Regions from separate parts of the Homo sapiens genome. Here region 1 is linked to region 2. Evidence: fine-mapped expression QTL. A gene starts in region 2. The other region holds a variant in brackets. All regions are shown on one strand. Distances are between the middles of the regions.

Region 1 (2,909 bases), 160 kb before region 2:
CATAAATAGAGTGAAATTATTATAACCAAGAAAGTTAACGTATCCGTCGTTACACATAATGTGTGTGTGTTTGTGTTAAAAAGAGAAATCTACTGTTTTAGCAAATTTCCAGTGTACAATAGGATATTATTAACTATAGTCTTCATGCGATACCTTAGATCTCTAGGCTTCTTTCTCCTCATAACTGCAACTTTGTATTCCTTGTACTATCTCTCCACAGCCCATCTCTCACCCTTGGTAATCACCTTTCTACTCTGCTCTCAACTTTTGTTTACATTCCAGATAAATGAGATCATGCAGTATCTTTCTTTCTGTCTGGTTTATTCCACTTAGCATAATGTCCTCCAGTTTCATTTATGTCCCCCCAAATGATAGGATCTTCTTTTATATTTAAGGCTGAATAACACTTCATTGTATTTTTTGCATATTATCTCTCTCATTCTCTTGAGAGTAATTGGACCTTTTCATTCCCTTCTTCGAATTTCAAACTGTCTTTCACATTGTCTCTTCTTTTTGTCTAGGCACCCCAGGATATCACCTACTGCACTCCAAGTAGTTTTCTTCTATTTATTTGCCAGTTTCTACATTCGTCTCTGTTAAATTGGCTGTTTAAACCATCACTCAAAATCGGTTTTGGTTATTATTTCAATGATTGCATTTTTCATTTTTGTTTCTATTTAGTTATTTTAATGTATACATTAGTGTTCTCTTTCAGCAATGTTTGTATTTCATAGGTTATCCAATAGTTCTACTCTCTAAAGTTTGGGGAATTTAATTCTGTCGAAGTTTTTGCTGGGTCTGCACTTTGTCTCCTTGACTGGAATATAAGTTCCTCTGAGGAATTTTTTTTTTTTTTAATTTTTTCTTCTTTGCTGTTATCCTAGTGCCAAGATCAATGCCTGGCACAGAATTGGTCTTGATAAGCATTTGTTGAAATGCTAAAAATTGGACTATTTCTTGGTGGATTTTGTACTTTTGTGATGTGAACCCACATTCAGCTGGATATTACATGTGGTCTCTTGAGTGGCCTTGGTAAGGATATGCATTGAATTTGCCGTTGCCAGACACCCCAGAGTATCACCAGCCTGGGACCACATTTTGGTCTAATTTATTAGCTGAAGGAGCTAGTATAAATTTAATTCTCAAACATCCACAAGAGCAGAGTTATAGCAAAAAATCTCAGGTGAGATTTTTTTCTTCTATATACAGTCCTGGCCAAAATAAAAGATAGACAAGGATGTTTTTAAGTCAATTTTAAGTGTGAGGACAGATATGATGTCAATTAATTGTGGCAAAGCCATTTGAGGGTCTTGGCTTTATGTTTGAGTCCCAGCCCCAATGTCTTTCTTTGCTGAGACTTCAAAACAACTTCTCAACTCTTCTTTCCTCTCTGTCCCATCAGAGAGCTGAGCCCCACACCTGCAACCCTGTTTTTTAATTCTTTATTTTTTGTCTGTGGTTTACTTTCTTAAGGGCTCAGCTATATGTTTAAAGACTGCTTGTTAAGATCTGCTCAGTATTTCTGAATGATATTACTAAGTGGGATGTCAGTTTCATGCATTATATTCCTAGACATATAGTGTTCTTTGCTCAAGTCTTTTTCATTAGAAGTTATTATTGTACTTAAAATTTATTTTTATCAAAGTTATACATAGTAGGCTTTTAAAGAAAAGAGAATTCCCATGCTCTCATACCTCCCTATTCTCAATTACTATTCTCCAAAGGCAATACTTTAATCTATTTTAGCTGTTTCTTCTGGCATTTATCTCCATAGTTCTAAGCACAAGTATTTTTGCTGTGATGGCAAATATATTAC[C/CA]AAAAAGGCTGAGAGTTCCAGAAGTTGAGGGCTAAAAATAACAGATTTATGAGCAAACTAGGGTTGAGGGCAGACCACTCAAAACTTTGAAATGTGGAGCATCAACTACATATCAAACGTAATAAAATGAGTCACACAAATAAATCTCCAGTGTCATTTTCATCCAGCAACACAGTGCTTGGATCCTGTGCAGCCTACCACACTGGAGCTCTTATTCTCTTCTTCAAAATGTTAATACTTGGGGGCATCTGCTTCTAATAGAGACCAGTTTCATCAAAATTAAAAATCTTTCTCAAGGGGTAGACTTCATCATCAATCTTTTCCTAATACAGAGAGAAATGACCTTGTACGTTCTTCATCAACATCTCCTCAGCTTCCCCCTACACCTTCAGTTAATGGAAATTGTAGTAATTATTAAAGGCACTAAAATGTCACAATTTTTCCTGAAGGAAGGCACTTCAATAAAAGTTTTCATCTTTTTCTTTCTTAAGATCTTTGCATATTGCTAACGCTTTCCTCTTAAATTTTAAGAAAGTTTACCTTTGATAAATTCCAAATAACTACTGAAAAAAACTCTCCCATGGACCAACAGAATCTCTGCATATATGAGTGAAAAACACATACAAAGCAATTCTTATTCCAGAGACACATGTTGCAGGAGAACAGACTGGCCATGATTTGCTTTATGGCCTTTGATATTATCTATTGATATGCTACAGAGGGAGATGAAATACCATGTCCCTTCTTATCCTAAACATAGACCTCCACCAACTCCATCTCTTTCATCAGCTCAACATAGTTTTAGCAGCTGTTTCACATAAAACAGTATTCAGCACTTACAGTCTTTAGCTTATGCAAACTTCATTACATTTTCTTTCCATATAGTTCACTTTTCTAAGCCCAAATTGTTTTGTTCCTTATATGCTTTTTTGAGAGAAAACAAATGAACTATTAATTTAACACCCAACATTATGACAGACCGTACAATGTTTTTCGGGTATAATCAAATTCGGTAACATTTAGTGTAGCTTATCGCAATAGGAAGTAACCTGCGAGACTACTGTTTGCTTGTCGGTTTTGGTTTTGTTTCTTG
Region 2 (2,893 bases):
TCCGAACGTCAAAGGATGCGCTTTGCTTTAGAAATGCAGGGAGGCAGAAGTTGGGTTATTTCTCCCTCCTTTTTTTTTCTTTTTTTTTTAAAGATGGAATTCCTGGAATTAACCCTTGGGTGGAAGCATTTCAACAAAATAAAATGAGATTTGCCTGCAAAGCGAGAACGCACGGGTGGGAATGAAGGATCCTGCCTGTGCCAGGCTGCTGCCTCAGCAGTGTCCAAGCACCCAGCGCCTGAAAGCGGGAGCGTGGGGACTCGTCTGGGGACCCTCTTCCGGGGCTACTGGCGGGAGGCGCAGCCGAGCTGGTGGTGGCGGGGTTTCCCTCCGGGGCTAGGGCTGAGGGAGGAGAAGAGGGCGGACTGGCTCCTTCCGTTCTCGGCCACCCTCCCCGCCACTCCTTGAGGCTGCTCCATGCTAACAGGAGACTGTTTCTCGGAGCGCAGCGCAAAGACAGTGGATTTGGAGTGGCCTCCCTAGAATCCCCCCAAAAGCATCTTGGCACAAGTTGTAGATAAAAATAGCTCATGATAACATTGTGGGAAAGGGAGGAGCGAGACTCGCGCAAGGCGAGGCAAGGGTACCACTGGATCTGCAAAGGAGGAGGAAGAGGGAGGATGCAACCCTTGGCCCAAGAGAGCGCCCTGAGTGTGCGAGGAATCGCTGGCTCCCAGGGGAGGGAAAGAGATGGAAGACCTATAGCGCCTATAACTGCAGAGTTATAGACCTATAACTGCAGAGCCCAGCACACCCCATCCCGCGCCGGCACCCGGCTTTGGCTCCAGCTTCTTCTTCCCATCATCCGCCTACGTTCTGGGTCTGTCCTCCGCTTCCTGGGACAGGCTGGGGCTAGAAGGAGGAGCAGCGCGCCGTCCGCCCCCTGGCTGGTAGAGCGCACCTGGAGAGGTCAAGCTCCGCGAATAAGACCCTTCCTGGGAGCTGGGGTCTAGGCGTTCCAACCGCGGGTTCGCACCCCGCCATCCCTCACCTCCATCCGCTGCCACTACCCAAGGGCCCGGAAATAGAAAACCACGAAGGGGGAAAAAAATCAGTAAAAAGTAACAAGAAAAAAATCAAGACCCTCATGTAATTGGCATTAGGGATGAGAGGTTTATTGTCAGGGCTGTCACCTCAATCTCTCTCTTTGGGAGATGCCTATCTCCAACCAAATGCAAAGGCAAACCCGACCAAGGCTTCTCCACCCCCAAAGGCTCCCTCAGCCGAGTTACTTTTGCGGGCTGTGTCCTCGCCCCAGTTTCTGGCCCCAGGTGGTACCCAGGATCCGTTGAGTGCTGCGCTCTCGCTGCCCTACAGGGTCCTATGGTGAAGCTGCGGTCGCGAAGCGGCCGGCAGGAGCGAACCTCACGACTCTGCAGGGGGGGAAAACATCCAACCCAGTAAGAGTCAGAAATCTGGGTCCCTGTCCTTACAGATCAACCGGTCCCTCGGGACTTCCAGAGCAGAGGTGCTAGGGCAGGAGGTGAGGAGGATGGGAAAATCCCCAGCCTTTGCTTCCTGGTTCCCTCTGCATCCACTCCACCTGCTCCAGCCTCGATTCTTCTTAGGTTCTGCACTTGCCCGAAGTCCAGAACGCCAGACAAAGGCACCTCGGAGCCCTCTACACCTGCGTCCTGCCACTCTCCCACCCCGCGCGCGCCGCACTCACCTGAGCCGCGCCTCTGTCCAGCCCGTCCGGCGCCCTAAATAGGCTCCTAGGCTGGGCCATGGGCAGCACTGCCGAGCACCCGCGGCGGGTAGAGCAAGTTTCTGGATGGCCCGGGGCAGGCGGGCGGGGAGAAGGCGCAGGCACCCACTGAGACCCGGCTGTCGTGGCGGCGACTCCTGGCTGCCAGGGCGCAGAGGACCTTGCAGGCGGGCGTTTTGGTGCTCAATCCCGAGGAGGGGGAGGAGCGGGAGGAGGAGCGGGAGCAAAAGGAGGGGACGGAGGAGGCCGGGCCCGGAGGGAGAGCGCGTTGGGCAGAGGAGGATCGCGAGCGCCCACTGCTGCCCGGCCCGCTCGGGTGCCGCCCAGAGTCCGGCCCGCTAGGTGCCTGGTGCTCCGCTCTGCGCTCAGCTGCTCCGCACAGCCCCGCCTGGCACGCAGCTCCAGCGGCTGGTCGGGTAGTAGTCGGTCCCGCCCACCCGGTGCGGTGGCCCCTGGGGTTTCAGTCCAAGGGGAGGGACCAGCGCTCCAAGAAGGTGAGGCTGCTGGGATGGGTGACTCCGCCGTCACTGCAAACACGGGACGTCCCGTCTACTCCCTTACGCCTGCTTGGTCTGAGCCCGAGTCTACCTCTTCTCTAAGTCGCCAGCTCGGCACTTGTACCCGGGACCTGTGCTCCTCCCACGTGAGTCTGCACCATGCGTATTCCCTTCCTGGCAGGTGACCCACCTTAGGCGCTGGCGCTCCTTCCGCCCCCCGGGAAGCAGGAGGTGCCATCCTCTCCAATTCGCTCTGCAGCCGGACTGGGACCGGAGCGGCGGCCTGGGCCAGAATCCGCGTGAGGAGCCGGCTTCAAAGAGCGCCCTGTCGCCATTGAACACTCCTTTTCCTTTGGTTTAGCGTCGGAGAGCGGACGCCAATTTGCCAGGAGAGCGCGGAAAATTCAGCTTTTTTTTTTTTTTTTTTTTTTTTTTTTTTCCGCTAGTGCACTAGGATTGCAAACGTCAGCTCTGAAATAAAAAGCAGGATATTTCTGCCCCGCTCCTCTATTCCGGAAGCTGGGAGGTTCTGTGGGAGAAAGGACCTGCACCCAATAACTCAATTTAAGATTTAAGGTTTTGAGGGGCGTGGGGTTGGAATCGCCTTGGAGAAACGGGTTTGCCTGCTTACCTGAGCCAAAGGAAGTTGCCCTCAAAGGCAGGTCAGCAATCATACCCCGCCAAAAGC

Direction of the effects. Alleles are on the strand shown, and positions count from the first base shown. SD is a standard deviation of normalised expression in the study named.
With allele C in place of CA in region 1, the expression in subcutaneous fat of the gene that starts at base 1,865 in region 2 is lower (small effect, 0.24 SD a copy in GTEx).

Evidence for each region. PIP is the estimated chance that this variant, and not a neighbour inherited with it, causes the effect.
Region 1: its variant is fine-mapped to the expression of HS3ST1 in subcutaneous fat (GTEx, PIP 0.97).

Annotation. Positions count from the first base shown.
Region 1 is chr4:11,263,136-11,266,044 of GRCh38, forward strand. The region is part of intron 1 of LOC105374488 (a long non-coding RNA gene); the gene reads left to right. Among named protein-coding and RNA genes, the nearest start is that of MIR572, 100 kb to the right of the region's middle. The variant C/CA (reference allele first, on the strand shown) is at 1,817.
Region 2 is chr4:11,427,030-11,429,922 of GRCh38, forward strand. It overlaps HS3ST1 (heparan sulfate-glucosamine 3-sulfotransferase 1), which reads right to left and starts at 1,865. Exons shown (of 2, transcript NM_005114.4): 1 at 1,670-1,865. RefSeq lists an enhancer at 1,521-1,740 and a silencer at 1,831-2,010.